4 separate regions of the Homo sapiens genome follow, and regions 2, 3 and 4 are each linked to region 1. The links come from fine-mapping of genetic effects on gene expression. A gene starts in region 1. Each other region holds a variant in brackets. All regions are shown on one strand. Distances are from middle to middle.

Region 1 (8,106 bases):
CTTTAGTCCCAGCTACTCTGGAGGCTGAGGTGGGAGGATCGCTGAAGCCCGGAAGTCGAGGCTGCAGTGAGCCATGATCGCACCACTGCACTCCAGCCTGGGTAACAGAGAACCTGTCTCAAAAAATAAAAAATAAAAATACTTGCATAAGGCTCATTATTTTACCTTTTTGAAAGTTATTCTTTAACACAAACAACAGGAAGTAACCCACACTCGCTGAAGCCAAAAATGAGATTCCTATGAATGGATAGAAGGATGCATCATGATCCTGGGGAAGGAATCCTGCTGGGCCTCAGAAAGAAGTGGAACCAGCTGCTGGAAGGTCCCAAGAACCTAGGGAGCAGTCTTTTTGTGTCTAGACTTGCTTCTCTGTGTGCAACTGATTGATCTTCTTTCTCAGCAAACTGGTTTTCAATGCTGCTCAGGCCAAATGGGCAAGTAGAAGATGACTACTGCATAGCTCCCAAATTACCCTTAAGTCCAATTTAAGTCTGAGCAGAGATGTAGCTCTTTGTCTCCCAATTCCAAATTCTTAGAGAAGTAATTCTAATTGGCCTGGTTTGGCTTAATTCCCCAACCCAGACTATTTAACTGGGGGATCACACTGTGCAAACATGCAATTCCTCATTGGTTCCCCACTGGCAATGCTAGCTCTCTCCATGTCACCCTTATTTAAGCCCTTAGAACTTTATTTCTAACATTCATATTTGATCTTGTCATTCCTGCCTCTGCAATAAAGCCCTTCAGTATCTCTCCCAACTCCTTAGTAGTCATAGGCGTTTCATCACCAAACCCTGACCAGCTCTCCTCAGCTGTCTCCGTTGCCTCCCACACTTCTCAATCACATTGGTCATTTTGCCCCTCAGTTCTTTTGCACATGCCAATTCTCTCTTTACCTCCCACTCATTCTTCAAAATTCAGCTCACACCACTTCTGTGAAGCCTGAAGACAAGCTACATATCCTGACATTTATCTGCTTCCTTGACTGTGACCCCAGTCTCTAACTCTTTCAGTGAGTATGGAACCTAGAACAGAGTCTTCTATTTTTTTTTTTGAGACAGAGTCTTGCTCTGTTGCCCAGGCTGGAGTGCAATGGCGCAATCTCAGCTCACTGCAACCTCCGCCTCCCAGGTTCAAGTGATTCTCCTTCCTCAGCCTCCCGAGTAGCTGGGATTACAGGCATGCGCCACCACACCCGGCTGATTTTTGTATTTTGAGTAGAGACGGGGTTTTACCATGCTAGTGGTCTCAAACTCCTGACCTCAGGTGATCCGCCCGCCTCAGCCTCCCAAAGTGCTGGGATTACAGGCGTGAGCCACCGCGTCTAGCCTAAGAGTCTTCTCAATGGGTGATATGGTTTTGTTAGTGGTGGAAGAGGTCTGAGTTACCCCAAGTTACCTGCAGCCTATCCTTATGGGTCTGTAGCAACTTTAGTCCTTGCTTCATCAGAAGAAAGAATTCGACTGTGGGGCAGAAAGCAGAAAAAGAGACCAAGGCAAGTTCCAGAGTAGGAATGGAAGTTTATTTAAAAAGGCCTTAGAACAGGAAAGAAAGGAAGGTGCGCTTGGAAGAAACCCAAGCGGGCACGTGAAGGTTAAAGAGAGAAGGTCAAGTGCCTAACCAAGATCCTAGGACTTTTACAGGCTGGCCTCTTTCCCATGATTCTTCCCTTAGAGTGGGCTTCCCGAATGCGCAGTGCTTTCCTTCCCGTTTTCCGGTGGAGGGTGCCCCCAGGAGATCATACGTCACCATTTTTGTCTCTTAACACGCATGCCCAGAAAGTTGCTTCTCCCTGAGGCCTGCATTCAATTAGCATTTTGATGTTAACATGTGTGGACCATCAGGAAATGGCCTCTCCCTGGCCCAGCCGAATTATCCTTTTTAAAGAAGCAATGAGGTAATTATGGAACTGTCACTGGTAGAGGGTCTGACTGCAAGTTGTCCAGGTTCTTGGCGTTTTGAACAAAGAATTGGACAAAACGCCCAGCAAAGCAAAGAAAGAATGAAGGAACAAAAGAAGGAAAGCAGGGATGTATTGAAAACGAAAGCACACTCCACAGTGTGGGAGCAGCCGGAGCAGCGGCTCAAGGGCCAGGAAACAGAATCTTCTTGGGTCCAAATACCCCCTAGAAGTTACCCGCCACTTCATGCTCACCTCATGTAAATGAATTCGTAGCCTGCAATCAGTCTGATTGGTTGCAGAAAGCAGCCAAGCAGAGGCTGAAGTGAAGTTACAAAGGTCGCACACCTGTGCAAACATCTGATTGGTTGCAAGAAGCAACCAATCAGAGGCTAGGGTGAAGTTACAAAGTTATACTTCTATGCAAAGTTAGACTCGGCTGCAGTCAGTCTAATTGGTTGCAGATAGCCAATTTCCCATCTGCTGGGCAGAAAAGTTGGGTGGGGGGTTTGTTACTTAGGTGTGGAAAGTTAGGGTTTTCCTTTCAATTTAGTTCCAGGAAGTTGGCATGAACCAGTCTTAGGTTCCCTGCCTCCAGTCCCTATTCTCCTGCCTCAGAACCATCACCCAACATCCCTAGTGGGTAGCAGGGGAGAACCCTCTCCTGCCCCGCTCATGCCTAACTACCTGTAACAGTTTGGCTGTGTCCCCACCCAAAATCTCATCTTGAATTGTAATTCCCATAATCCCCCTGTGTCAAGGGCGGGAACAGGTGGAGGTAATTGGATGATGGGGCTGGTTTCCCCTGCGCCCTTCTCGTGACAGTGAGTGAGTCCCACAAGATCTGATGATTTTATAAGCGTCTGGCATTTCCCTTGCCTGCACTCACTCTGTCCTGCCACCCTGCGAAAAGGATGGCTACTTCTTTGCCTTTTGCCATGATTATAAGCTTCCTGAGGCCTCGCCAACAATGCGGAACTGTGAGTCAGACCTCTTTCCTTCATAGTATTTCTTCATAGCAGTGTCAGAACGGACTAATACAGTGGGTTTCCCATAACATTTGCAGGACTGCCTGCCCCATCCCCCTCTGGCTGTAAACAGCAGGAGTCACACACAGGCATCTTCCATGTCCCCCACACATCCGGCCCTGAAGGGCAGGGGGCGCATGGGTTCTACGTTTCATCAGGGGTTCCGAACCCTGGCTATGCACTGGAGGCCAACCCCACCTCACCCCACCCCACTCCACCCCAGTGGTTCTGAGTCGGTCCAGTGTGAGGTCAGCCCTCCTTCTGTTGTTTGGTTAGTTTCCACACTAGGTTCTACTGGGAAGCCAGCGTTGAGAACCGCCGCCTCAGGCGAAGCTGGGACTCACACCCACCGGCCCTGGAGGCCCGCGGAAGGTTTCCCTGGGTTCCAGCACCCGGGAGCCGCGCGTCGCCAGGCACCACCCCGCGGGGGCGGGCGCGGGCCGCAGAAGATTGGGCCACGGCGGAAGCCTCTCCGCTCCCTTAGCGGGAAAGCTCTGCGCGTGACTCGGCTGCGCCCATCGCTGCGGGAGCCGGGGAGGGGGCGAGCACCTTAGGCCGGGCGGACCGAACCAACGCGCCGCCCGGAGGGGCGGCCTGAGGGCAACCCAGATCGGACCATCGCGCCACGCCGACAGGGGCCGGCCTTTCCAACCCGCCCGGAGGGAGGGGCCGCCGGCGCCTCTAGCCTGCAACGCGACCCCTGGAGGGCGAGACACGCCGCCGCCGCCGCCGCCGCCGGCGCGGAAGGACGAGGCTGAGGCGAGAAACGAGGTAGGAACGCCTCTCCGGAGGCGGGCAGGGTCCCACAGACCCACTGCCCCGCGTTCCAAGGTCTCCCTTAGGGGAGGGCCTGTCTTCCCACCTATGTGCCTTCAGCGCCTGCCCTTCCCTTCAGCCCTTCCCCCTCGGCTGCACCCGCCCTCTGCGTCCGCCCCGACCCCCTGGGCAGACCTCGTCCCCAGCCCTTCTGACCCTTGGCCTTCTCCTGACCCTTCAGCTCTGCGTCCACCGGACCTTCAAACACCCAGCACCCACCGTCCCTTTGGGCGCCACCCCAGATGCATCCCCAACCGTCTCCTCAAACTGCCCCCTTGGGGACACCCTCCCCCCACAAAACGACTCGCGCCCAGTAGTCACCTTGGTACCCCAAGTCCCTGTGACGGCTTTGGGGAAGCGTGGCCGCCCGGCACCCAGGCCGGCGACTGCAGCGGGGGCCTCCCTACTGCCAGTTCCCGGCCGGGTCCTCTGCTCCCTCCACCCTTTTAGCCCCTGCCTCCCTTTATTATCCGCCCGGCGCCGGCGTTGCTTCAGTCTCTGTCTCTCTGTCATCCAGTTTTACCTGGAGAAAACCTTTGGCTTGGCAGTAACCGTCCCCTACTACTGCACTCACTTGCCGCGAAGGGCACGGTGATCCTGTTGCCCACAGTTGGCTGTGGCCCTCCAGGCCGGCCCTGCGGACACGGGGAACTGTCCTGGGGGCAAGGACGGTACACTACTCATCTTTGTATCCCCGGTCCCCAGCACGGTGCCTGGCACATGGTAGTGTTGCTGGTGGAGGGTCTTCACTACCAGTTGTCCTTTGCGTTTTGAACAAGTAATTGAGCAGCGGAGGAATGAAACGCAGGAACAAGTAGATCTGAGTCAGGCAAGGATTACCACTATGTGAACAGTGTCCGTGATAAAGAACACAGGCCTTAAAAAAAAAAAAAAGGCGGAATTTACAAAGGACAAAGGGCCTGAAACCTGTTTTTATTTATTCCTAGGTGGGTGACCTGAGCAGATTTAGTTTCCTGGGGGTTTGGGTTCCACGCGGAAGCAGGTGGTATCGCTGAGGGATGAAACAATGGCTGGAAAGCTGTAGGAGTTGATAAGGTAGAAAGTAGTTACCTAATTAGTAGTGGCATTATTGTAACTGGGGCTCAAAGTATTAGCAAATAAAAGTAGTGACTGGATTTTCTTAGCCGGCTCCTTAGATATTAAGCAGTGGTGGATGGCTTAATGGAAGGAAGAGCAGATCCAAACAGTATACCTGGTATTCTGTTAGTTATGCCCGTCCTGCTGTATGGCCAGCCACTGTTTCTCTTCTGTTTTGAGCCAGGTTAGGATCCCTCTGATTTCTGTGCTGGTATTTAAGATTCCTTTTTGAAGCCACAGTTGCCTTAACTGGAGGCTGGACATGTTCTCATTCATCCATTGCTAGTTTTGATGTATCCTTTTCCGCTTTCTGTCTCCCACCCTCTTACATGTCTTTATAAAGTCTTGGATCAGGCCAGGCACAGTGGCTCAGCCTGTAATCCCGGCACTTTGGGAGGCCCAGGTGGGCGGATCACTAGAGGTCAGAAGTTCAAGATCAGCCTGGCCAACATGGTGAAACCCCATCTCTACTAAAAATACAAAAATTACCGGGCATGGTGGTGTGCACATGTAGTCCCAGCAACTCAGGAGGCTGAAGTCCCAGCAACTCAGGAGGCTGAGGCAGGAGAACCCCTTGAACCTGGGAGGCAGATGTTGCAGTGAGCTGAGATCATGCCACTGCACTCCAGCCTGGGTGACAGAGCAATGCTCTGTCTCAAAATAAAGCCTTGGATCATAGAAACCCAGTGTGGGGAGGGGCTCCTGATCTGGATGGATTAAGCAATACAATTTTTTTTTAACAGTATCTTTTTAATGGCCTTTTCTACTTTTTCCTGTCTAGGCTTCCTGTTAAGACCTCAGTTACCCCAGAACACCCTGGGTTATTTTTCTCCTCACCTCCAATACTTCAGTGTTGCCAGATAAAACGCAGAGTGCCCAGTTAAATTTGAATTTCAAATAAACAACAGGGAGTCCTGTATTTTTACTTGCTAAATCTGGCAAGTTCATGGGAGGGCTTATGTGTTCTATTTTTCTCTCTGGGCTTATCTGCAAATTTAGGATAATAACTCACCCTTTTCTTCCTGTTACTCATACACAATGACTATGCACCCTGCTAAAAGTCACTTGACTGAAGAGATGGTTCACTTCATGTTAGGGTAAGGGCAGGCTATCTAGAAATGGTCTTGATTGATCAGTGTTGAAGTTACCCAGGAAAAAAAAAAAACACCCATTCAGACATTGGCATTTAATATAATTTTTGTCAAATGAGTCCGTCATACGAAACGAGAGCATCATTTTGAGTAGCCAGATGTCAACATTGCTCTGATAGAGCTAGGTGATGGGGTAGAAGGGAATCCTAACAACAACAAAATAACTCAGCAGAACCTGTGCTGTACCATATTTACTCTTTATGGTGGTAATATATATATATATAACATAGAATTTACCATTGTAATAATTCTTAAGTGGCATTAAATATATTCACATTATTGTACAACCATTACTGATAACAATCTCCAGAACTTTTTTTCATCTTCCCAGACTGAAACTCTGTACCAGTAAGATGCTAACTCCCCATTTCTCCCTACTCCGCCCCAGGCAACCACCATTCTACTTTCTATCTTTGAATTTGACTACTGGGGGTACCTCATATAAGTGGAATCATGCACTATTTGTCTCTTTGTGACTGGTTTATTTCGGTTAGCATAATGCCTTTTTTTGTTTTTTGGGTTTTTTTTTAACTTTTATTTTAGGTTCAGGGGTACATATGAGGGTTTGTTATATAGATAAACTCATTTCACAGGGGTTTGTTGTACAGATTATTTCATCACCCAGGTATTAAACCTGGTACCCAATAGTTATCTTTTCTGCTCCTCTCCCTCCTTCTACCCTCAAGAAGACCCTGGTGTCTGCTGTTTGTTTCTTTGTGTTTATACATTCCCATCATTTAGCTCTCACTTATAAGTGAGAACATGCAGTATTTGGTTTTCTGTTTCTGTTAGTTTGCTAAGGATAATAGCCTCCAGCTCCATCTATGTTTCTGCAAAAGACATGATCTCATTCTTTTTTATGGCTGCATAGTATTCCATGGTGTATATATACCACATTTTCTTTATCTGGTCTGTCATTGATGGGTATTTAGGTTGATTCCGTGGCTTTGCTATTGTAAATAGTGCTGCAGTTGGTTAGCATAATGTCTAAAGTTCATCCACTTTATAGCCTGTATCAGAACTTCCCTCCTTTTATTTTTATTTATTTATTTTTTGAAACAGAGTCTCCCTCCATCAACCAGGCTAGAGTGCAGTGGCACGATCTTGGCTCACTGCAACTTTTGCCTCCCAGTTCAGGTGATTCACATGCCTCAGCCTCCTGAGTAGCTGGAATTACAGGTGCACGCCACCACGCCCGGCTAATTTTTGTATTGTTAGTAGAGAGGGGGTTTCACCACGTTGGCCAGGCTGGTCTCGAACTTCTGACCTCAAGTGATCCACTAGCCTCAGCCTCCCAAAGTGCTGGGATTACAGGTGTGAGCCACTGCACCTGGCCAGAATTTCACTCCTTTTAAAGGCTGAATAATATTCCATTGTATGTATACACTATATTCTGTTTATTCATCTTTTGATGGATACTTTGGTTGCATCTATCTTTTGGCTATTATGAAAAATGCTGATGTGAACATGAGTGTACAGATATGTTTGAGTCCCTGCTTTTAGTTCTTGTGGGTATATACCCAGAAGTGGTGTTGCTGGATTGTATGGTAATTTTATGTTTATGTTTATTTATTTATTTATTTATTTGAGGAACCACTGTTTTCCACAGTGGCTATAGCATTTTACATTCTCATCAGCAATGCATAAGGGCTCCAATTTTTCCACATCCTTGGCAACACTTGTTTTCTTTTTTTTTTTTTAAATAACAACCATCCTAGGCTGGGCATGGTGGCTCACGCCTGTAATCCCAGCACTTTGGGAGGCCGAGGCGGGCGGATCACCTAAGGTCAGGAGTTCAAGACCAGCCTGGCCAACATGGTAAAACTCCATCTCTACTGAAAATACAAAAATTAGCCAGGCATGGTGGCGCACACCTATAATCCCTGAGGCAGGAGGCTGAGGCAGGAGAATGGCTTGAACCGGGGAGGCTGAGGTTGCAGTGAGCTGAGCTCATGCCCCTGCACTCCAGCTTGAGTGACAGAGCAAAACTCCATCTCAAAATAATAATAGTAATATAACCATCCTAAGCAGTGTGAAGTGATATCTCATGATTTTGATTCATATTTCTCTAATGAAAAGATATCGAGCATTTTTTCATGTATTTCATACCTAT
Region 2 (8,106 bases), 60 kb after region 1:
TGACAGCATTGGTGACAGTGCCACCCAGCAGTCCTTCCACCTGCATGGCACTGGCCAGCCCAACTTTCATCTATCCTCTTTCCAGCTGCCACCATCTGGCCCCAGAGTGGGCAGGCCATGGGGGACAACACGCAGTCGGGCTGGAGTGGTGGAAGGGCAGGAACAGGAGCCAGTGATGACCTTGGATACTCAGCAGTGCGGCACCAGCCACTGCTGCCGGCCAGAGCTGGAAGCAGAGACTATGGAGCTGGATGAGTGTGGGGGACCTGGTGGGAGTGGCAGTGGGGGTGGAGCCAGCGATACCTCTGGCTTTTCCTTTGACCAGGAATGGAAGCTCAGTTCAGATGAATCCCCAAGGAACCCTGGATGCTCCGGCTCAGGGGACCAGCACTGCCGCTGCAGTAGCACATCCAGTCAGTCCGAGGCAGCTGACCAGTCCATGGGCTATGTGAGCGACTCCTCCTGCAACAGTTCAGATGGTGTGCTGGTCACCTTCAGCACCCTCTACAACAAGATGCATGGCACCCCCCGTGCCAATCTCAACTCTGCCCCACAGTCCTGCAGCGACTCTTCCTTCTGCAGCCACTCAGACCCTGGCGCCTTCTATCTGGATCTGCAGCCCTCCCCATTTGAGTCTAAGATGTCTTATGAGTCCCATCACCCTGAAAGTGGAGGAAGGGAAGGGGGCTATGGTTGCCCTCATGCCTCTTCTCCTGAGCTTGATGCCAACTGCAACTCCTACCGCCCACACTGTGAGCCGTGCCCAGCAGTGGCTGACCTCACAGCCTGCTTCCAAAGCCAGGCCCGTCTTGTTGTGGCCACACAAAATTACTATAAACTTGTCACCTGTGACCTATCTTCCCAATCATCCCCAAGCCCTGCTGGCTCTTCCATCACTAGCTGCTCTGAGGAACACACCAAGATAAGTCCCCCACCAGGCCCTGGCCCAGACCCAGGCCCCAGCCAGCCCTCTGAGTATTACCTATTCCAGAAGCCAGAAGTCCAGCCAGAGGAACAAGAAGCAGTGAGTTCCTCCACCCAAGCAGCAGCTGCTGTGGGCCCCACTGTGCTTGAGGGACAAGTATACACGAATACTTCACCCCCCAACCTCAGCACTGGACGTCAGCGCTCCCGCAGCTATGATCGCAGCCTGCAGCGCAGCCCTCCTGTCCGCCTGGGCTCGCTGGAACGTATGTTGAGTTGCCCAGTGCGCTTGAGTGAGGGCCCTGCAGCCATGGCCGGGCCTGGCTCCCCACCCAGGAGGGTCACCTCCTTTGCCGAGCTGGCCAAGGGCCGGAAGAAAACTGGAGGCTCTGGCTCGCCCCCACTTCGTGTGAGTGTTGGGGACTCCTCCCAGGAGTTCTCACCCATCCAAGAAGCCCAGCAAGATCGGGGGGCCCCACTGGATGAGGGCACTTGCTGTAGCCATAGCCTGCCACCCATGCCTTTGGGGCCAGGCATGGACCTACTTGGCCCAGACCCAAGTCCACCCTGGTCCACCCAGGTCTGTCAGGGACCCCACTCCAGTGAGATGCCTCCTGCTGGCCTCAGAGCTACTGGGCAAGGCCCCCTGGCTCAGCTGATGGATCCAGGGCCTGCTCTCCCAGGGAGCCCAGCCAACAGCCATACCCAGAGGGATGCAAGAGCTAGAGCTGACGGTAAGGAGCCTAAGGGTTAGCAAATATGTGGCTATTCACCAGCAGGATATGCATGGCCACCTCCCTGACAGGTCCCTGCCAGACCACCCCATCCATACCACTAGAGGTTCCACATCCTAGATCTGTTATCCTTCTAGGCCAGGGCAGGACCCACAGCTACAGTGGAATAGGCTCACTGGAGAAAGACAGAGGACTCAAAAATACACTGAGCAGACTGGGTGCAGTGACTCACACCTGTGATCCCAGCCCTTTGGGAGGCCAAGCCAGGCGAATCACTTGAGGTCAGGAGTTTGAGACCAGCCTGGCCAACATAATGAAACCCCAGCTCTACTAAAATAAAAAATAAACTAGCCAGGAGTGGTAGCACCCACCTGTAATCCCAGCTACTCAGGGGGCTGAGGCAGGAGAATTGCTTGAACCCAGGAGGTGGAGGTTGCACTGAGCTGAGATCATACCACTGCACTCCAGCCTGGGCAGACAGAGTGAGATTCTGTCTCAAAAAAAAAAAATAAATAAATACACTGAGGAGATAAAATCAGCAGGACTTAGAGGCTGACATATTGGGAAATGAAGGATTCAGAAGACTGATTCTGAACCTGGATGATGGGAAAGATGAGGCCATGGATAGGGGCTGTAATCACAGGAGATTTCCTGGAAGAAAAGTTCAGGTTCAGACCTTTAGGAGTTTGCAGTGCCTAAGGGGCAACCAAGGGATATGTCTAACAACAACAACACACACACACTGGGCGTCAGTGAAGTTTTTTTTTTTTTCTTTTTGAGACGGAGTCTTGCTCTTTCGCCCAGGCTGGAGTGCAGTGGCCTCCCTAGGCCAGCTCTTTCCCTATTTATTTTGTTACATTTTAAATAAATATTTTATACCAGTGTGTTAAGGTGGTGCTAGTGACAGAGAGATGAGAGGGATGACTCTGTTTTCAAGGATTCCAGCTAAGGACAGAAACAGAAAACGTAGTTGATCATTAAAATGCAGAGATGGCAGTGTTCCGTACTGGCCAGTGAAAGGGGTATGTAAATCAGACTGAAACGTCAGGGAGGAACTGCTAATGCAGTTACATTTAAGCCCAATCTAGAAAGATGATTAGGATTGGGCTTTGTGACGACTTGTAAGAAGAATGTTCTAGGCTCACAGGATTGTCTGTACAAAACCACAAAGGCACAGAATAGCTTGACCCTTTCTAGGAACTGCATATAATTTGGTGAAGCCATAGTGGAACACAGGTGGAACCACTGAAAAATTTTAGAGAAATGGCTTTTGGCATTTGTTTGTTTTTGTTTGGTTTGGTTTTTCTGTCTGCTTAATTATATGTTTTGATTTGCATTTAGAAAGATCACTGGTTGGTTGTTCCTTCAGGCCTTGTTTAAAAAAAAAGTAATTGGGCTGGGCACAGTGGCTTACACCTGTAATCCCAGCACTTTGGGAGGCCAAGGCGGGCGGATCACCTCAGGTCAGGTTTTCAAGACCAGCCTGGCCAACATGGTAAAACCCCATCTCTACTAATAATACAAAAATTAGCTAGGCATGGTGGCGCATGCCTGTAATCCCAGCTACTCTGGAGGCTGAGGCAGGAGAATCACTTGAATCTGGGATGGAGATTGCAGTGAGCCGAGATCACGCCACTGCACTCCAGCCTGGGCAACAAGAGCGAAACTCCACCTCAAAAAAAAAAAAAAAGTAATTGGATCACTGGTTGTTTGGGTAGAAGATGGACTGGAAGGGGTGTCTTCCTGAAGTCAGGAGAAAGCACTGTGTAGATTGGAAAGTCATTGGAATAAAAGTGGTAGCTGGCACTTGCTGGGCGTGGTGACTCATACCTATAGTCCCAGCACTTTAGGAGACTGAGGCAGGCAGATCACCTGAGTTCGGGAGTTCAAGACCAGCCTGGCCAACATGGTGAAACCCCATCTCTACTAAAAATACAAAAATTAGCCGGGTGTGGTGGTGCACGCCTGTAATCCCAGCGACATGGAAGGCCGAGGCAGGAGAATCGCTTGAACCCAGGAGACAGAGGTTGCAGTGAGCCTAGATCATGCCACTGCACTCCAGCTTGGGAAACAGAGTGAGACTCTGTCTCAAAAATAAAAAACAAAAGTGGTAGCTGAAGCTATGTGTGTGGCTGAGAGAGGATCCAGGGAGAATGTGTTGAGTTATAAAGGGAAGAAGGGGATACTGTGACTTAAGGGATGAGCAGCACCCTCAAAAGAGACAGAAGAATTAGGACAATAGAAGAAAAACCAGGAGAGGCCGGGCATGGTGGCTCATGCCTGTAATCCTAGCACTTCGGGAGGCCGAGGTGCGCGGGTCACCTGAGGTCAGGAGTTCACCAGCCTGACCAACATGGTGAAACCCCATCTCTACTAAAAATACAAAAATTAGGTGTGGTGGCGGGTGCCTGTAGTTCCAGCTACATGGGAGGCTGAGGCAGGAGAATCGCTTGAACCTGGGAGGCAGAGGTTGCAGTGAGCCAAGATTATGCCACTGCACTCCAGTCTGGGTGACAAAGTGAGAGTCCGTCTCAAAAAAAAAGAAAAACCAGGAGAGAGTGAAGTCACAGGAACCAAAGGAGGAGAAAGTTTAAAAAAAGTTTGAACCAAAAGAGTTCTAAAGAGAAATCACCTAAGATAATGAAGAATCCTGAAGGCAACATTCAGGAGTAGTGAGAGTGGAAGCCAGATCTCAGAGGGTTTAGAAGGAAAGGGAGGTAAAGCAGGGATAGCAGAGGCTCACAGCTGTGCTGTAGCCTTAGGTTGGGTCTGTTGGCTTCACAAAAGAAAATGTTTTAAAACCATAAATAATATCTGTGCTGTCAGGGAGATCACAGTCCATCAGAAGACTTCATGTTCCTAACATACACTGAAGAGCTGTCCTTGGGGTGGGCATGGGAG[G/A]GAGATCTCTAGGGAAGGGGCAGGATCAGAAACAGCAAGGATTGACTGGGTCCTTTGAACCCACTCCCTTAGACTGCAGTGTCTGTCTGCTGGGTGCATCTCGTGGGATACTATGACTGGCATTCTGAGGGCAAGAAATATCCTGGTCAGAGATGTGTTTTCTCTATCAGATTAAGACATATCAACATGCTGCTCTGTTCCATAAGTCTCCAGTCTTCTCTTGATTCTGTACAGCTTTTTTCTAAATCAAAAATGAATGACAATTCATCAAGCTTTGAATGACAAAAGAAGGGACAGGTTGATCCAATCTAGGAATGACAGTATAGGAAGCTGAGAAGGTCGGCTGGGCATGGTGGCTCACACCTATAATCCCAGCACTTTGGGAGGCTGAGGCAGGAGGATCACTTGAAGCCAGGGGTTTGAGACCAGCCTGGGCAATATAGTGAGACCCTGTGTCTACAGAAAAAAAAATTTAAAAACAGCTGGGAGTGATGGCACATGCCTGTAGTCCTAGCTACTCGGGAGGCTGAGGCAGGAGGATCGCCTGAGCCCAGGAGTTTGAGGCACAGTGAGCTATGATTGCACCACTGCATCCCAGCCTGGGCAAAAAGTGAGATCCTGTCTCTAAAAAAAATTAAAGTAGGCCAGGTGTGGTGGCTCATGCCTGTAATCCCAGCACTTTGGGAGGCTGAGGTGGGGAAATCATTTGAGGCCAGGAGTTCGAGACCAGCCTGGCCAACATGGAGAAACCCCATCTCTACTAAAAATACAAAAATTAGCTAGGCATGGTGGCGCACGCCTGTAGTCCCATCTACCCGGGAGGCTGAGGCACAATAATCGCTTGAACCTGGAAGGCGGAAGTTGCAGTAAGCTGAGATCACGCCACTGCACTCCAGCATGGGTGACAAAGTGAGACTCTGTCTCAGAAAAAAGTAAATTAAAAAATAAAAATAAAAAAGGCAGCTGAGACGGCTCTTTGAGATACTGAGCAGCAGAATCAAGATTTAAAGGGATCTTACTGAATCTTGAAAGAACAAAACTAATAAAGCAGAGACCAATGTGAAGTTTGATATGTAACCTGCACTTGAGTTGATTTGGGATATTTGATTGCAAACTCAGATTGAGTCAGCAGTTGGTAGAGCTTCCAAAAAGTTAAGATGACTGGATTCATTCATAGACTCCAGAAAGAAAGAGTGGATAGTCTCTCACTCCTCCGAACCAGTGAGTGCTCAGTGGTATTCCATTGAGTTCTGGGTACCACATCTTAAGAAGGAACTGAGGAACTGGGGGACTGGGGCTATTTAACCTAGAGAAAAACTGACTCGGGTGAATACGGTCTCTGTCTCTGGTTTTCTTAATGAATGTCACATAGAAAAGTGAGAAAACTTATTCTGTGTATTCCCTGAGGGTAGAACTAAGACCCATTCCCCACAGGGGCCCCCTTCTTACCTGATCTTATTCCTCTGCCTCAGTCTGTATCCTGGGAACTTAGCAGAGAGGAGTTTTAAAAGGGTAGGAATAAGCAGTCTAATTCAGACATACTTTGTATAGGGGGTATAATAATGCTGTGGTTGGGATGACCTAATCCGATAGCCAGAGTCAGCTCAGCCTTGAAAACTGATACTTAAATAGGCGGAAAGGAAGGACACATTCCTGATGGGAAAAGCAGTGGGCTTCATGACAGGGATGGACTGGGAAGAGTAGGGTCAGTGGGGGCAGGTGTGGAAGTCTGAAGGGAGAGCAGCCTAGCTCGTAGCAGGTGTGGGCAACTAGCTCACTGAGAAGATTAGACTTTATTCTGGGAGATAAAATTTGTATCTCAGAAGCTAGTTGGTGTATGTAAGAAGCTTCTGGTTGTAGTGAGACTGGCTTGAATCAAGAGTGACCGTGGAGATTCCCTCATTTAACAGATGGTTTTTCACTCCATACTGTGTGCCAGCCTCTGTTCCAGGCATTATGGATCCAGCAGTGAACAATATAAAATCCCCACTTTTCTGGAGCTCTTAGGAGCAGTAATGGACAATAAACACATTAAAAGGACAACTTTTAATTGCTGGAAAGTTCAACAATGCTGAAAAGAAAATGAAACAGGGTAATGGGATAGAGAGCAACTTGCCAGAGGGGCTGACGTAGTCAGAGAAGGTCTTATTGAGGGGGTGATATTTGAGCTGATGCCTGAATGGTGAGAAGATTCAGACAGAAAGAAAAGCAGGTGCAAAAGGCCCGGAGATGTTCATGCATCTGGTGTGTTTAAGGACGGGGAAGTGTGGCTGGAGCACAGTGGGCCAGGGAGAATGCAGAGTCTGTGTAAGCAGTGACTGGGTATAGCAGGAGGGTGGAGCTTGAAAGTGTCCCCTGGGAGTGATTCAGAAGCACCTCCCTAATGGGATTGTGGTCCCCATCCCCTCTGACTCTTTGATGTAAATAAGATGAGGGATAGGAAAACCTGGCCTGATACAATTTCACATGTAGTACAATGTGGTAAAAAGAACAGTGGCTCTGAAATCAGACTCTGGGTTAGGCAGAATTCTAGCTCTGCCACTTCCTAGTTGTTTGACCTTGAGCAAGTGCTTTAATCTGTCTACATTTCACATTTCCTAATATGTCAAGTAAGAGAACTAATTCCCGCCTCGCAGAGCTACTGAGCCCCACTGCTGGTGAGCTTTCACCAGGGCTTTAGGCCGGGTGCGTGCTTATAGCGCCATCTTACGTTTATTCGGAGATCTACAGTGTTTTGTTGGAAGTGCAGTCCATCCACTGTCCCACTCCAGTGTCCTGGAGTTTTGTGTTTAGTTCTGAGCACCACGTTTTGAAGGACATTGACCTGAAGACTGCCTGAAAGAACAGGAGAGGCCCAGCCTTGGGGAACATACCTCCGTTCAGGGGGAGCAAATGTGGACTCTGAGGTTCCAATGCCAGGATCGTGAAAAGAGTGGGAGTGGGGGTAGATACAGATAACAGGTAGGCTGCAAGTAAAGAAATATCTTACTATGGTTCGATATGCTCAGGAATGAAATGTGCTGGCATGATTGGAGATGGGATAATGAGCAAAAGCTTGAAGTCAGTAACATCTGAAACATTTTCATCACTGAAAATGTGTGTGACTGTGACTCCAAGACTTAGAAACAAAGAAAATGGTTCTGCCATTGATAGAAATGGAAGTCATCGGAAAAAAGGAGAAAGGTGATGGATAAGCGGTTATAGCACATTTTAAGTGAAAGCAGAACTATAAAGCAGAATGATCTGGAGATGAAGAGGAAGGTCCAGGCTAAAGCTGTGGGTTTGGGAGTCATCCCGTAGAAGTCTGAACTCAAAACTTCTCAAGAAATAAAGTGTAAGGTGAGATGCAAGAGTTGAGCCTTAAGATACACTCACCTTTGGAGTCAAGAAAATGAAGAGGGACTGAACAGCAGAGAGGTACAAGACAGTCCAGCACCATAAAAGCAATAGGAAGCGTTTTACAAAAGAGGGGAGCAGTGTCCCATTCCACGAACTTCTACCCCATTCAATTCCTGCCAGCCAGGTCCCTGCCCCTCTCCCCTCTCCC
Region 3 (8,106 bases), 82 kb after region 1:
ACAAACAACCAACCTAACACTTAGACATTTAAAAATACTCCCTTGAGCTGGGCGTGGTGGTGCATTCCTGTAATCCCAGCTGCTTGGGAAGCTGAGGCGGGAGGATGGCTTGAGCCCAGAAATTTGAAGCTGTAGGGCGGCGCTATGATCACATCTGTGAATAGCCACTGCACTCCAGCCCAGGCAACACAGTGAGACCCTGTCTCTTAAAGAAATAAAAATTAAAATTAAAAAAAAAACAAAAACACCTTAACCCTTGGGGCAAAGAAAAAATTCCAGTTATACACAATTATTTATAAATAAATGAGAATTCAATCAAAGATGAATTCAGAGGCAACTTTTAGCCTCAAACACATACTGGCCTCATGATTAAGAATATAGACTTGATCCTGCTGGGTGTGGTGGCTCACACCTGTAATCCCAGCACTTTGGGAAGCCGAGGCAGGTGGATCACAAGGTCAGATCAAGACCGTCCTGGCTAACACGGTGAAACTCCGTCTCTACTAAAAATATAAAAAATTAGCTGGGCGTGGTGGCAGGCGCCTGTAGTCCCAGTTACTGGGGAGGCTGAGGCAGGAGAATGGCGTGAACCAGGGAGGTGGAGCTTGTAGTGAGCTGAGATCGCACCACTGCACTCCAGCCTGGGCGACAGAGAGAGATTCTGTCTCAAAAAATTAAAAAAAAAAAAAAAAAAAATATATATATATATATAGGCTTGATCCTGGCTCCATCACTTATGAGCTGTACAACCTTGGGCAAGTTAGCAAACCTCTCTGTATCTCTTTTTCCCTCCTCTATAAAATGAAAATGCTAATAGTGTAAGGATTAACTTAAACGGTACAATAAAGCACAATAATAAATAAACTATCAATATCATTACTAACAAATGTTCTAGTGGGAGCTGCTCTAAGAAACAATTGCCTACCTTGGCTGGTCCAAGTAAAAGAAGAAAGCCAAGAGTGGAAGGAAGAGAGGATATCTTAAGAATGGATAGATTTCCTGAGTATCCAAGGAAGGAACTGTATACTGTACAGACTGCCATATAGCTAGGCCTCGTGAAACGGGAATTGAGAACGTGAAAGTGAACAGGAGCTGAGGCAGCTATTTTCACTCTCACCCTGGGGCCAGGTGCTTCTCTCTGCACATCTGCTCAACTCCGTCTGTCTCTATCTGTCTCTCTCGCTCCCTTTTCCAAATGGACTTGTCACTATTAGTTTCTACTCCCTGATAACTCTGGTATGCATGTGTTCATCAGGAAATTTCTACACCCCACATCCCCCATCATCTCTACAACAGTGATTGCTTAAGCAGAGTGTGCTGCAGAATTACCCAGAGTTTCGATATCAAACCTATAGAAAAGTTGCAAGACAAATGTCACTTTTACCTGACTTACCAGTTGTTCACATTTTGCAACTCAGAAGTATAGTCTCCCATGCGTCCCAGAAGGAAAGAGAAACAGACACAGGTGAGCATCACCATCCTGACCTCACTCATCTCTCTCGGCCTGGCCTCACTGCAGATGCAGAGGCCACCACCTCAACCAGGCAGCTGGGGAGGGAGGAGGGCATGTGTGCAGACCATGATGGCTTCAGCAGGACAGGCTGCAGACAGACTAGCCAGGCAAATGAGTCTAAAAGCAACTAGCCAGCTAACTAAATTAACTAGCTAATAACTAAGCAGTCAATTCAAAAGGCTAGAAAAAGAAGAACGTCATAAAGCTAACAAATATAGGAGAATGAAACTGATAGAAACCAATAAATCAGAAAACAGAAAAACAATTGAACTGTTATAAGAGTTGTTTAAAACAACAACAAAACAAGCAAACTGCTGGCAAAGTTAGCCAAGAGAAAGACTATACAACACCCCTAACAGATTGAGGAAGTGGCTAAAAACAGGCACATAGGAATTTGTGGGGGGTTTTTTTGTTTTGTTTTTGTTTTTGAGATGGAGTCTCGCTCTGTCGCCAGGCTGGAGTGCAGTGGCGCAATCTCGGCTCACTGCAACCTCCGCCTCCGGGGTTCAAGCAATTCTCCTGCCTCAGCCTCCCAAGTAGCTAGAATTACAGGTATGCGCCACCACGCCCAGCTAATTTTTGTATTTTTAGTAGAGACAGGGTTTCACTATGTTGGCCAGGATGGTCTTGATCTCTTGACTTCGTGATCCACCTGCTTCGGCCTCCCAAAGTGCTGGGATTACAGGCATGAGCCACCGCGCCCAGCCAGGAATTTGTGTTTTAACTACAAAAGAATACTAGTGAAACTCTATATAAATAAACTAGAAAATGTCAATAAGAATGAATATTGTCTTGGAAAATATAAATCAAAATCAACTCAAAATGATGGAACATCTGAATAAAATAACAATAGAAAGAATTGGGCCAGGTGCAGTGACTCACATCTGTAATCCCAGCATTTTCGGAGGCCAAGGTTCAGGATTGCTTGAGCCCAGGAGTTCTAGACCAGCCTGGGCAACATAGTAAGACTTCATCTCTACAAAAAATTTTTAAAAAATCAGCCAGGCATGGTGGCGTGTAGTCCTAGCTACTCAGGATGCTGAGGTGAGAAAATCACCTCGGCCCAGGAAGCTGAGGCTGCAGTGAGCCATGATTGCATCACTGCACTCCAGCCTGGGTGACGGAAACCCTGTCTCAAAAAGAAAAAGAAAGAATGGAAAAAGTGGTCAAGTAGATGCCCCTACCAAAAGACCCACACGCCACTTGATTTACAAAATTAGCAAAAACTTAATTCAAGACAACAAATTCAATACCTAACAAACCTCACACAAGTTCTACAGATAAAAAATGCCACCAAATAAAACATCAAACTAGCAACAGCAAAAAAGCAGGATGCTTACTATCACTGTCATCTTTCCTCCAATTCATAGCAGATGCCAATAAAGGATCCCAGTCCCCTTTCTGAGATCTTCCAAGACTCTGCAAGACAGCATGTTTTGAGTGATTTCTGCCAAAGCTTCAGATGAGGGGAGTGGTGGCAAATGTTCTGCTCTTTATCACCCCTGAATTGACTGACAGCTCAGTAAGGGCAGAAACCATGTCTGTCTATCTTGTTCATGATTATATCCTCAGCATCAAGCACAAGTGTCTGGCACATAGTATGAACTACACAAGTCTAGTAATATTGTAAAAGAATAATATACATTAAGACTAGTAGAGCCAAGTGTGGTAGCTCATGCCCGTAATCCCAGCATTTTGGGAGGCCAAGGCAGGAGGATCACTTGAGCCCAGGAATTTGAGATCAGCCTGGGCAACACAGTGAGACCTTGTCTCTACTAAAAATAAAAAATTAGCCAGATGTGGTGGTACATTCCTGCAGTCCCAGCTACTCAGGAGGCTGAGGTGGGAGGATTGCTTGAGCCCAGGAGGTCAAAGCTGCAGTGAGCCATGATTGTGCTACTGCATTCCAGTCTGGGAAACAGAGAGAGACCCT[C/CA]AAAAAAAAAAAAAAAAAAAGAGACTAGTAGGATTTATTCCAGAACTACCACAGTGATTAAACTAGAAAATTTCTTAGTGCAATTAACATATGATAAACCAAAGGATATAAAAGCCATTTGATCACCCTGGCAGATATTGGAAAGGTATTTTATAAAACTAAATATCTACTTGTGATTCTCCTTAAAAAGGACTTTTAGTAAACCAGGAATATAAACATGATAAAGAATATTTGAAATGAATAGCCAATATCAAACTATATCCAGAAGAAACATCAGAGAGAGGACTGGGAAATAAATCTTATCTGTTGTACCAAATCAAATCAGCTATAGTCACTTATGGGAATGTTACTGGGGAGCTTCTGAAACAGGGCCATAGCTTAGCAGGAAAAGGTACTAAGAAGGATTAACTATGTTTGTTTGCCATGGGCATAAGATGAATGCCAGCATGTCGGATTCATAGTCCTTCACTTTATAAAAGTCAGAACCAAGACAAGAATGCTCATTATCACCTTTACTATTCAAAGTTACTATAGACAATGCATAAAACAAAAATAATTAATAAGAACCATAAATATTAGAAAGAAAGAAAAGAATCATCATCGGCCTAACTACAAAATCCTGAGAAGCAACTGAAGAACAATGAGAACTAATAAGAGTACTGTAAGATGCTTATTACCTGAAAAATATATTCAAATATCAATAGCTTTATTAGGCAGCATTACCAGTTAGATGACACACTGGAGGACTTCCACTTCCAGCATTATGGCAGATAGTTCAGAAGATTATCTGCAGCAATCAACTATATATTACATAGGTCATGTGAGGTGTTGCAGCTCTCACAAAGAAAGGAGTCTTCAAGAACATACCTTCCCCTCAAAAATAACACAAAACAAAAACAATAAAACGTAAGGACAGGTGTGGTGGCTCATGCCTGTAATCCCAGCAGTGTGGGAGGCCAAGGCAGGCGGAACATTTGAGGTCAGGAGTTCAAGACCAGCCTGGCCAACATGGTGAAACTCTATCTCTACTAAAAATGCAAAAATTAGCTAGGGGTGGTGGCACATGTCTGTAATCTCAGCTACTGGGGAGGCTGAGGCAGGAGAATTGCATGAACCTGGGAGGTGGAAGTTGCAGTGAGCCGAGACCATGCCACTGCACTCCAGCCTGGGTGACAGAGTGAGACACTGTCTCAAAGGAAAAAAAAAAAAAAAAGGTCGAACTCATAGAAGCAGAGCAGAATGGCCATTACCAGAAGCTATGGAGAGACAGAAAGGGGGAGGTATTCATCAAAGGGTGCAAAGTTTTGGTTATACAAGAGGAGTAGGTCCTAGACATCTACTGCACAACATTGTGCTTAGAGCCTATAGTTAATAATATTGTATTATTATAAAATTTTTTTTAAATTATACTGAAAAATGTATATTTAAAAATTTGCTAACAGGGTAGATTTTTTTTCCATTATGCTCTTCTAAGATACTAATAAACCATAAGATGGTAGATCTTATATTAAGTGTTCTTATCACTAAATAAATTGGGCAGGAGGAAACTTTTGGAGATGATGGATATGTTTACGGCATTGACTATAGCGCTGGTTTCATGGTTCTATACTTACCTCCAAGTTCAAGCTGTATACACTAAATATGTATTGTAAGTCCTCAGTATTGTCAATAGGTTCTTGGAAATTGCAACTTTCAGAGAAATGATGTGAAATGATGGGTACGAGAGTTTACCGTACATGAGGAGAGCATGCAAACTCCATATAGACAGTGGTCCTGGCCTGAATCAACCTTTTTTTCCCCTGGCCAGGTGCAACGGCTCACGCCTGTAATCCCCATACTTTACGAGGCTGAGGTGGAAGGATCACTTGAGCCCAGGGGTTCAAGACCAGCCTAGGCAAGACGGGGAGACCCCCCTCTCTACAAAAATAAAAAATAAAATTTAAAAAATTAATTTAATTAAAATTAATTATCTGGACTAATTAGCCAGGCAAGGTGGTACACACCTGTAGTCCCAGCTACTCAGGAGGCTGAGGTGGGAGGACCGTTTGAGCCCAGGAGTTTGAGGCTGTAAGTGAGCTATGATCACACCGCCACACTGCAGTCTGGGTGACAGAGACCCGGTCTCTATAAAAATAAAAAGTTTAAAAAATGATAAAAATAAAATATTTTTTCATATCAATGTTATAAAGTAACAACAGTGAGTGAAACATCATTTGAGAACCTGCTGTACAACTTTCTGTATGTCAATAAAGTGATTTTTTAAAAAGGGAAATCATCAGAGGCCAAAAACTAGGCAAAGGATAGAAGGCACTTTTGGCTTAATGGCATTGGCCAAGCCACACAAACTTGGAGGTTCATTTTCACAGGTTCATGAAGTACTGAGAAAAGGAGATAAAACTCAGTGACCACCCAAGATGGAGAGTCTAACAGAAAATTTTTCCTGCATAAAACTGGCATGCATCAAGTTATGTCCCTTTAGTCTTTTTTTTCTTTTTCTTTGAGATGGAGTCTCATTCGGTCACCCAGGCTGGAGGGCAGTGGTGCAATCTCGGCTCACTGCAACCTCCGCCTCCTGGGTTCAAGCAATTCTCATGCTTCAGCCACCTCAGTAGCTGGGATTACAGGCGCCGCCACTACACCCAGCTAATTTTTGTATTTACTTTAGTAGAGACTAACTTTCACCATGTTGGCCAGGCTGGTCTCAAACTCCTGACCTCAAGTGACCCGCCTGTCTTGGCCTCCCAAAGTGCTGGGATTATACACATGAGTCACCGCACCCCACCTTGCCCCTAGAAATCCATCTGCCCCCCAAATCCTTCCTCAGGGGACTACAAAGAAAATTGCCTATCTCAAAACTTGGTACCAAGTGAAAAAGGGGGACATATTTCCCCTAAAACTTCATAACTACAAGCTGGCTCATGCGTGATTTGCAGATGGAATTCACTCTACCTGAGTAGTCTGAAATACTATCAAGATAATGAGGTAGGAGGTGGGACTGGACTCCAGAGGCAGGGCTCAGCAGCGGACCAAATTGAGGACTAGCTAAAACAGGGATGGGGCAGAAGTGGTTTTCCATATGACATGGCCACCAGTGTGCTATGTCAGTTTACCATTGCCATGACAACACCCAGAAGTTACCACCCCTTTCCACAGCAATGACCCAATGAACTGGAAGTTACCACCCTTTACATACAGAAATTACTGCATAGTCCACCCCTTAATTTGCATGTAGTTAAAAGTGGGTATAAATCTGAATGCAGCACTGCCTCTGAGCTGCTGCTCTGAGCATACAGCCTATAGGACAGCCCTGCTCCACAAGGACCAGTACCTCTGCAGGTTTATTAGGATCTTGGAAGAGCATAATGGGAAAAGAAAGATGTACTCTGTTACCAAATTTTTTAAGTATACACTGCTGCTTCAATAAAAGTTGCTGTCTAACACCACTGGCTCATCCTTGGATTTTCTTTCCTGGGCAAAGCTAAGAACCTCCCAAGGCTAAGCCCCAATTTGGGGGCTCACCTGCCCTCCCATCATCTGGTGATCAATGAAAGGAAAAAGATAATGAGCAAGAGGCAGCAAGTCAGTGGAGACAGTGGCAGTCAGCAGACAGGTGAGATGGTGGGACAGCAGAGACGGTGGCAATCAGCGGTCAGTGGAGAGGTGACGACTATGAGAGACAGCAACTGGGAAGACAGTGAGAGACTGACAAGACCAAGCAGAGACAGCGAGAGACCGCAAAGCGGTCTGTGATCAAGGCTGCAAGAGCTATAACACTGAGGCTGTAACAATAAAGAGCTGCTAACACTAACCAAAGGCTCTTTTCAGAGCCATCATTTTCCCTGGCAGGCGGCAGGGCCAAGCAGACACACTAATGGCCATAATGTCACTGCCTCATGTGAGCTCTGACCATGGCAGGCCAGTGGGTTACCAGTCCCTATGCTTGCCCCCTGTGTGACAGCTGAGCCCACCCAAGCTGGGGGGTCCTGGAGGGACCTTCACCAGGGTCCCACATGAAAGACTGGCTGGTGCCATTTGGCTCCTATGGATGGGTAAGTGTCCCTTCTTCCCCTACTCCATAACATCTAGTGAGCTGGGGAATAAAAAGCCTTCGGCTAAGTGGTTAAAAGTCCCCCACAGTATGAGTGCCCTGAGGCACATCCTTGTGACCTCTCCCCCCTGTGCTTTCTTCTCTGACTCCATATTATTGTTCCACCAATCATTTTATTTTTATTTCGAGTCCAAAAATTTACGTTTCATTTGAAGCGTTATGTTTCCTTTTGACTTTCTGTTAACTGTGTTTGAGCAATTGTTTAAGGCTGGATGTTTAGTTGTGCTCTGTTGCGTCAACTCTGGGACACCAGAGTCACATTGTTCTATGACCCCAACTTGGTCTTGGGTTCACTGTTGGCCACTCCCTTGGTGCCCCCAGGTTTTTGGCATTTGGTGAGGGGACCCTCATTGGCTGAAACAGGCACTCTGGGTTTCCAGCATTGGTATGATAGGCCACTCCCAGATGCTCTGGGGTTTTCAGGATTGACATTCCCTCTAGGATTATAGGTTATAGCCCCACCCACTACGGGAATATTGGTATCAACTTTTTCTGCCCTGAAGTTAGAAGTTATTGTTTTCCTGACAGCCAGTTGCAAGCCCCTTACCGTAT
Region 4 (8,106 bases), 35 kb after region 1:
TCCTGGGTATACTTTCCCAATGCTGCAGTCTCCATTTACTGAATTGGAGCCTTGGGCGCCTGGGGTCTTTTACCTTTTAGGCTGCTAAGCCCATTCTACTTCAGAGCCAAGCCTCTTCTGGAATGTTTGTCTTTGACTTTTGGGGGTGGACGTTTAGCTGAACTTTTCTACAACATATGTGAGAAGCCAAAAGCAAACCAAGTTCTGTGCTTCGAAAGAGGACTCTATATTAAGGAAGCCTAATAAGGCAGCAACTGGTGTGTCTGGGACAGCCCTTCAGGCTAGGCCCTTTCAACACACTCCCAGCATGCCGTCTGGCCTCACTTGGAGTCCAAAATAACATGATACGAGTTAGAAACAGTGGCCTCCTCAGCTAGCAGCAGCTACACTCTACTTGGAGGAAAGACAGATGACCTCCTGGGCATTGGCTGCTATTCCATTTATGGAATCAGACTCCTGATGCCATAGCCAGGTGCTCTCAGCATCTAAGAACTTGTTTATTCTCTCTTTACAGTTCAGTCCTAGACACCCACAGGAATCACTGTTACCACCAGTTCTGAAATCTCCAAATTCTTTGAGCCTCTCTCACACATTTCACAGAGAAGTACTTGTCCTATAGGAAACTCAGAGCCTCCATCTAATCTCATGGCAAGGGTGGAGGGTAGCTGACTTTCCAAATTCGTGTACAAAGTTTATTTCTGTTCTGGGAAGTTAGGTTTGCTATTGGTGAAGTTAATCAACATCTGTTTACAAACATTTGATTTGGGAGGCATGAAAAAAGAGAGATGTTTCTGTCAGTTAATTATTTCACTCCCCATATCTCTAACTCCCAACAAACTATGGTCAGTTCTGCCTTTGCCTAGGGTTCCCTGGAGGTGCCTCTGGGGCCCCCCACAGTAAGGAGAGGGAATTGGAGTGCATGGGGCATTAGGCCTCCTCTGCTTCAACCAGGGTAGCTGTTTTATGTATTGGGGCTGAAAAATTAAAAGCATTGCTCTAACCCTTACACCCTGAAACTTTCTTTTTGCTGTTCTGGCCTCCAGAGGCATATTGGCAATTATTTTAACAAAATTATGAGCCCCTCAAATTGGGCTATTACCCCTGAACATCCAGCATAGCTCCTTATACACAGGAAGAATACAGTAGATGCTTGTGGCTTGATTGCTTGCTTGATTAATTGGCTCACAAGATGATATTAATTGATAGCCTCAGGATAATTCTAGATCAGAGAATAGAGTACAGTATGTAATAATTTATTTTGATTTGTTATGGTTTGAGCATTTCTGACCTTTGCTACTGGAATCAATCATGCAGTCTGAGGTGAAAACTTAGCCAAAAGGAATTACCTTAACTGAGGTTGTCGCTGTTGGAGAGGATACCCAGTAAGTCAGCACAAACAAAAGTACCTTCTGTTGATTTCCAAAGATTTGTATGATTTCAATCCACCTCTGTCCCTGGTGTACTGAGGTGAAAGGTCAGCAGAGTGATTATTGGGAAGACCAGGCATAGAGGTATACTAAAATCATATAGTCCTGTCTATTGATTAGTACTGCTTACTTTTGCTAAAAATTACCTTCTTGGACAGTTCCCAAAACTACTCATTGTCTTGATTGTGGGAAATGCAAAACTTTTCTCTGCTAAGCTATACTTATTAACAACATCTAAACTGTTTATCTGCAGCCTGCATTATACATCTGCATATCTTTTGTGAGGGTGGCTTTGTTTTTAATTAGCTTATATGTTTTATAAAATTATAATGTTTTTTATAAAGCTAAATAACAGGACATAAGTGAAAAAAGCAGCCACATTCAAATAAAGTCTGCCAGTTCAGTTAATTGTAATGTACTCAATGTTAATTGCTTTGTTTTAACAAATGTACCTTGATTACGTAAGATGGTAACATTAGGGAAACTGGTTAAAAGAGGTACAGGAACTCTGAACTATCTTTGCAACTTTTTATAACTGTAAATTATTCCAAAATAAGTAGTTAGCTTTTAAAAATTCATACACAGCAATAAAGGTCTTCACAATGAAAAAAAAAGCCAAATAGTGGCTGGGCGTGGTGGCTCATGCCTATAATCCTGTCACTTTGGGAGGCTGAGGTGGCTGGATCCTTGAGCCCAGGAGTTTGAGACCAGCCTGGGCAACATGGTGAAACCTTGTCTCTACAAAAAATACAAAAATTAGCCAGGCATGGTGGTGCATGCCTGTAGTCCCAGCTACTCAGGAGGCTGAGGTGGAAGGATGGCTTGAGTCCAGGAAGTGGAGGTTGCAGTGAGCCAAGATAGGGCCACTGCATTCCAGCCTGGGCAACAGAGGGAGACTCCATCTCAAAAAATTAAAAAAAAAAAATAAAAATTTAAGCCAAATAGTGCCAAATCTGGGGCAGTCTGAACATCAAAATCAGTAATGGATTATGACCCACTGACTTTTTAAAATCCAGGGGTCCATATTTATCCTAAATCAATAAATTAAGAAAGGAAGGAAAAGGGAAATCTTTATTATGTTAGAATGCCAACTAATCAATGTAGAAGGAATAATAGAAAATTGTCATTTTTTGGCCAGGCGCAGTGGCTCATGCCTGTAATCCCAGCACTTTGGGAGGCTGAGGTGGGTGGATCACTTGAGGCCAGGAGTTTGAGACCAGCTTGGCCAACATGGTGAAACCTGTCTCTGCTAAAAATACAAAAAATTAGCTAGGCATGGGGCACATGCCTGTAATCCCAGCACCTCAGGAGGCTGTGGGAGACGGAGGTTGCAGTGAGCCAAGATAGGGCCACTGCACTCCAGCCTGGGCAACAGGGTGTGACTCTGCCTCAAAAACACAAAACAAAACAAACCTGTCATTTTTCAACCATCATAGTAAATAACTGATTCAGATGAAACTCATCAATGGATGCTAAAATGATTGGATGAAAGTTTGATGGGAACAGGTTATTTATCTAATCTAAAAGTAATCTCTCCATAGATTGCTTATTAATTAGAGGAGAAAATGATAACTTTACAATGGAGAAACCTGACAGACACTATCTTAACGAAGGACTAGTTCAAAATTAGCATCATCAATAAAGTGATAAAATGACCTCATGTGTTGGGTTTTGTCTTGTTTTGTTCTGCATTATGTGTTTCTCCCAGACTCCTATTTTATGTTTTTGTTGTACTCTTTGTTTTCTGTTGGAGGCTGCCCTCAAAAGTCTGGTGATCCCAGGCCGGGTGCAGTGGCTCACGCCTGTAATCCCAGCACTTTGGGAGGCCGAGACGGGTGGATCACAAGGTCAGGAGATCGAGACCATCCTGGGTAACACGGTGAAACCCCGTCTCTACTAAAAATACAAAAAATTAGCCGGGCGTGGTGGCGGGCACCTGTAGTCCCAGCTACTCGGGAGGCTGAGGCAGGAGAATGGCGTGAACCCGGGAGGTGGAGCTTGCAGTAAGCCAAGATCGCACCACTGCACTCCAGCCTGGGGGACAGAGCGAGACTCCATCTCAAAAAAAAAAAAAAACTCTGGTAATCCCTTGGCTACTGATATAAAAATGAGCCATTTAAAAACACTGGAGGTTCTGTGAGAGTGGAAAGATATATCAACTGGCAAACTTGTCTGGTGGGCAGGTGGAACAGGCTGGCCTTTTTTTGTGTGGGGAAACCCCCAGAGAATTTGACATTCTTTTCTCTGAGGTAGTTCAGTTTCTGCAGAGAAATAATCTACCAGGGGTAGGGTGGGATAAATAAGTCTGGCTGTTGGTATTATCCTGAAATAGAAGGAAGAAGTCTAGCAATTCTTTGGAGATTTTCACCTAACCCCTCAGTTTTCAGATTGGCCTCTCATCCTGCTTTCTTCCATGCCTTGTTTTCCAGAGTCGAATGCAGTTCCACTCAAAGTTCTCCAGAAATAAATCTCCAGTAATCCTGAGGAGCAGGAGACCAGTGGTCTCCTGACAGTGTAGGGTTGTTGGTGGGGACTGGGTGTCTAATTACTTCTTCTACAAACTTTAACCAACATCCCTATTTTTTTTTTTCCTTTAAAAAGAATTTTTGGTCGAGCACGGTGGCTCATGCCTGTAATCCCAGCACTGTGGGAGGCCGAGGCAGGCGGATCACCTGAGGCCAGGAGTTCGAGATCAGCTGGCCTACACGGCAAAACCCCGTCTCTACTAAAAATACAAAAATTAGCCTGGCGTGGAGGCACACTCCTGCAGTCGCAGCTACTCGGGAGGTTGAGGCAGGAGAATTGCTTGAACCCAGGAGGTGGAGGTTGCAGTGAGCCGAGATCGCACCACTGCACTCCAGCAAGCCTCAGCCACCTTTAAACATATTTTTTAGGCCAGGTGTGGTGGCTTCTGCCTGTAACCCCAGCATTTTGTGAGGCCTAGGTGGGCGAATTGCTTGAGCTCAGGAGTTTGAGACCAGCCTGGGCAACATGAAACCCTATCTACCAAAAAAAAGAAAAGAAATACAAAAATTAGCTGGGCGTGATGGCACGTGCCTGTAGTCCCAACTGCTTGGGTGGTGGCCATGCAGAGTGAGTTCCTAGCATTTTAACAGTGCTTTATATTTCTATAAAATGGTCAGTTTACAGAGCACTTTCATGT[A/G]CTGTTTTGAATAGACCACTGTTCAGATCTATAGTAGGGGGCATATGTTTCCCCTAAGCCTTCAACTCCCCATAAAGTAGCCTGGTCCAGGCACAGGAAGACTCAGTAACCAATGTTTATATTCATGCCTGCTTTATTTTGAGCACCCTGGATCTCTCTATTGCTTATGAAAGCTGCCCAGACCACTACTGAGTTCTGGAAGATGCTGGGATTGAGGAGTGGGGAAAGGTATCCATATCCAGTCTTTTCATGTTTCTCCAAGGTTACCGTCCTATTTTGGTCAGAATTGTGTAATCTCCTTTGTGGGGGTTTTGGATATTAACCAACATCTTATCACTTGATAATAGTATCACACTTACTGGGTATTTACTGTATGTCAGGCACAATTTAAGTGCTTGATAGTATTAATTCACTTAATGTTGGTGGTATTTTCATCACCATTCTACAGGAAATGGGGGCAGGGAAAGGCAAGATAACTGGCCTAGGATTACACAACACTCAAACAGATATTACCTCATCTTGTTAACTATTAAATGTATTGCATTCAGATTTTACTTGGTGTGGGGTACAGTGGCTCATGCCTGTAATTCCAGAGCTTTAGGAAGCTAAGGCAGGAAGATCACTTGAGCCCAGGAGTTCAAGGTTGCAGTGAGCTGGGATGGTGCCACTGCAGCCTGGGCAAAAGAGAGAGACCCTGTCTCAAAACAAAATAAAAGCCACACAAAAAATTTTTGCTGATGTACAGTTTAGATACTTGTTACTGATATTCTTTATCCTGAGATAGTTTTACTTCCTGAATCCATGGATTCTTGTTTTCTAATAACTTCTGAAATATTATCTGTCATTATCTCTTCAAATATTACCTCTCCTTGATTCTCTACCAAAGATTCTGATTATAAGTATATTAAACATTTTCATTCTATCTTATCTCTTAACTTCTCATTCACTTTTCTGTTCCTTTGTTTTTTTGTGCTGTTTCTATGTGATTTCTTCAGATCGATCTTCCAGTTCACTAATTTCTCACTTCAACTTTGTCTTTTCTGCTGTTAAATTTGTCCTTTCGTTGTTTTTTTTTTCTTTTTTGAGACAAGGTCTCACTGTGTCACCCAGGCTGGAGTGCAGTAGTGCTTTCATGGCTCACTTTAGCCTCAATCTCCCAGGCTCAAGCAGTCCTCTAACTTCAGCCTTCTAAGTAGCTGGGACTACAGGTGTGCACCACCACATTCTGCTTGCTTGCTTGCTTGCTTGCATATGTATGTACATGTGTATGTATCTAGTGACAGAGTCTTGCTATGGTGCCCAGGCTCTTACCAAATTCCTGGCCTCAAGCAATCCTCCTGCCTCAGCCTCCCAAAGTGCTGGGATTACAGGTGTAAGTCACTGCACCTGGCTGAGTTTTTATTTTAATAATTATGTTTCTAACTTCTGAACATATTTCGTTCTTTTTCAGATCTGCCTGGTTATTTCTAATAATTCATTGCCACTCGCTTACCTTTGAGATTTATCTTTTATTTTAAAACATTTCACACATAGCTGATTTATATTCTGTAACTGACATTTTTGGTATCTGAAGTTCTTGCAATCTAAATACATTATTTATTGTTTTCTCTGTTATTTGCTCATGGCATCTTTGTGATCATTAATTATAAACTAATTTTTCTTGATCTTTAATTTTGAGAATTTTGTTGACTTAGATTGGGAAATATTTTCCCCCAGAGAAGATTCATATCTGCTTCTACCAAAAGCTGTGGAACACCACCTACCATGGATCATGATGAACTTCCTTCAGGCTTCCCTGTTTCTGCTTAATGCAGAACTCTCAGGTTTAGCTCCCTCACCTTCCCAGTGGCTCAAGTATGGTCATCTTGGCTGCAGTGATGCTCTGGGAATTGGCTGACAAGGAACCCTGGTTCTCCCCCTTGCTTACTGCATAGCTCATGAATTTTTCCCTTTTTGGGGAATTGGGTAGAGTAGTCACAGAGATGTCTCCTATATACTGAGAGACCTGAAATGCTTTTAAAAGTATATATTGCCCAGGCACTGTGGCTCATGCCTATAATCCCAGCGCTTTGGAAGGCTGAGGCAGGAGGATTCCTTGAGGCCGGAAGTTCAAGATCAGCCTGGGCAACATAGCAAGATGCCATCTCTACAAAAAATTTAAACATTAGCCAGGCATGGTGGCACATGCTTGTAGTCCCACCTACTTGTGGGGGCTGAGGCAGGAGAATTGCTTGAGCCCAACTCAAGGTTGCAGCGGGCTATGATTGGGCCACTGCACTCCAGCCTGGGTGACAGAGTGAGACCCTATTCCTTTAAAAAAAAAAAAGTATATATTATACAGGATCTCATATTTTTCATATTTTGCAGTGAAAGGGGCCCTGTAATGTCTTGATTACCATAATGTGGGAAGCAGAATTCTCTTTATGCGATTTGATACCTTTTTTTTTTTTTTGAGATGGAGTTTCGCTCTGTCACCCAGGCTGGAGTGCAGTGACGCTATCATAGCTCACTGGAGCCCAAAAGTCCTGGGTTCAAGTCAGCCTCCTACCTTAGCCTCCCAAGTAGCTAGGACCATAGGCATGTGCCACCACATCCAACTAATTTTTAAATTTTTGTGTTGACAGTGTCTCGCTTTATTGCCCAGGCTGGTCTTGAACTTCTAGGCTCAAGCAGTCTTCTCTCCTCAGTCTCTCAAAGCACTGATATTTTACTTTTTAAATTAGCTTAAAAGGGCCGGGCATGGTGTCTCACACCTTTAATCCCAGCAGTTGGGGAGACCAAAGTGGGAGGCTCTCTTGAGGCCAGGAATTCAAGACAGACCTGACCAACATAATGAGACCCCCATCTTTAAAAAAATTTTTAAAAAAAAATTGTAAAAAGTTTAAAAAAGAAAACAAAAAATAAATAAATTAGCTTAAAAGCCTTTTTCGATACCATTGAATATACCTTGTATACCCAATATTAATGGTTCTATTATATTCCGTTACATGGGTAGCTCACTAGCCATTTTTCCATTGGATATTTAGAATATTCTCAATTTTTCTCTGTTGCAAGTAATATTGCATTGAACATCATTGGGGAAATATGAGGCAAATCAAGGAGGGTAGAGATATAAAGAAAATGCATAACTGTTATTCTGGGGCAAGAGTTGGCAAACTCAGATGCCTTATAGGAGCCAGACAAATAATGCAAATAAGTAAAATGAACCAGTGAAGCTGCCATGAGGAGTGCTGGGAACACGGCAAACTGAAGGTCACGTGCTCATCTAATGAAGGGAACCACTTCTCAGCTCCAGCTGATTGTTAGTCATGTAGGAATGAGGGCCTAGTGTAGCCAGTTCTTTTGGTTTTTTTTCAAGCAAAACAAGCTGGAAATCTAGATTTTTTTCTAGAAATCCCCAAAATGTTTATGGTGGCATTTTTACTATGCAAAGCACATAAAACCTATTGACATACTAGATGTGACAGTCAGTCTGTCACTTTGCAGCCTTTGCTAATGTTTATGATGGCATTTTTA

Alleles and levels. Positions count from the first base shown, and alleles are read on the strand shown. Sizes are in standard deviations (SD) of each study's normalised expression. Not every link is listed here.
For the expression in monocytes of the gene that starts at base 3,638 in region 1, CA is the low allele of the variant in region 3 and C is the other (moderate effect, 0.48 SD a copy in Fairfax 2014).

What was found.
Region 2: its variant is fine-mapped to the expression of RUSC2 in whole blood (TOPMed, PIP above 0.99). The same link has a PIP of 0.9 or more in blood mononuclear cells.
Region 3: its variant is fine-mapped to the expression of RUSC2 in monocytes (Fairfax 2014, PIP 0.95).
Region 4: its variant is fine-mapped to the expression of RUSC2 in monocytes (TOPMed, PIP 0.94).

The regions. Positions count from the first base shown.
Region 1 is chr9:35,486,474-35,494,579 of GRCh38, forward strand. It overlaps RUSC2 (RUN and SH3 domain containing 2), which reads left to right and starts at 3,638. Exons shown (of 12, transcript NM_014806.5): 1 at 3,638-3,699. It overlaps LOC105376026 (a long non-coding RNA gene), which reads right to left and starts at 5,154. Exons shown (of 2, transcript XR_929580.4): 1 at 4,958-5,154; 2 at 4,646-4,783. RefSeq lists a silencer at 3,307-3,606.
Region 2 is chr9:35,546,878-35,554,983 of GRCh38, forward strand. RUSC2 (RUN and SH3 domain containing 2) reads left to right here. Exons shown (of 12, transcript NM_014806.5): 2 at 1-1,658. Among named protein-coding and RNA genes, the nearest start is that of CIMIP2B, 13 kb to the right of the region's middle. The variant G/A (reference allele first, on the strand shown) is at 4,560.
Region 3 is chr9:35,568,310-35,576,415 of GRCh38, forward strand. No RefSeq gene overlaps it. Among named protein-coding and RNA genes, the nearest start is that of CIMIP2B, 8.5 kb to the left of the region's middle. RefSeq lists an enhancer at 1,164-1,323. The variant C/CA (reference allele first, on the strand shown) is at 3,447.
Region 4 is chr9:35,521,483-35,529,588 of GRCh38, forward strand. All of the region lies in intron 1 of RUSC2 (RUN and SH3 domain containing 2), which reads left to right. Among named protein-coding and RNA genes, the nearest start is that of RUSC2, 35 kb to the left of the region's middle. The variant A/G (reference allele first, on the strand shown) is at 4,591.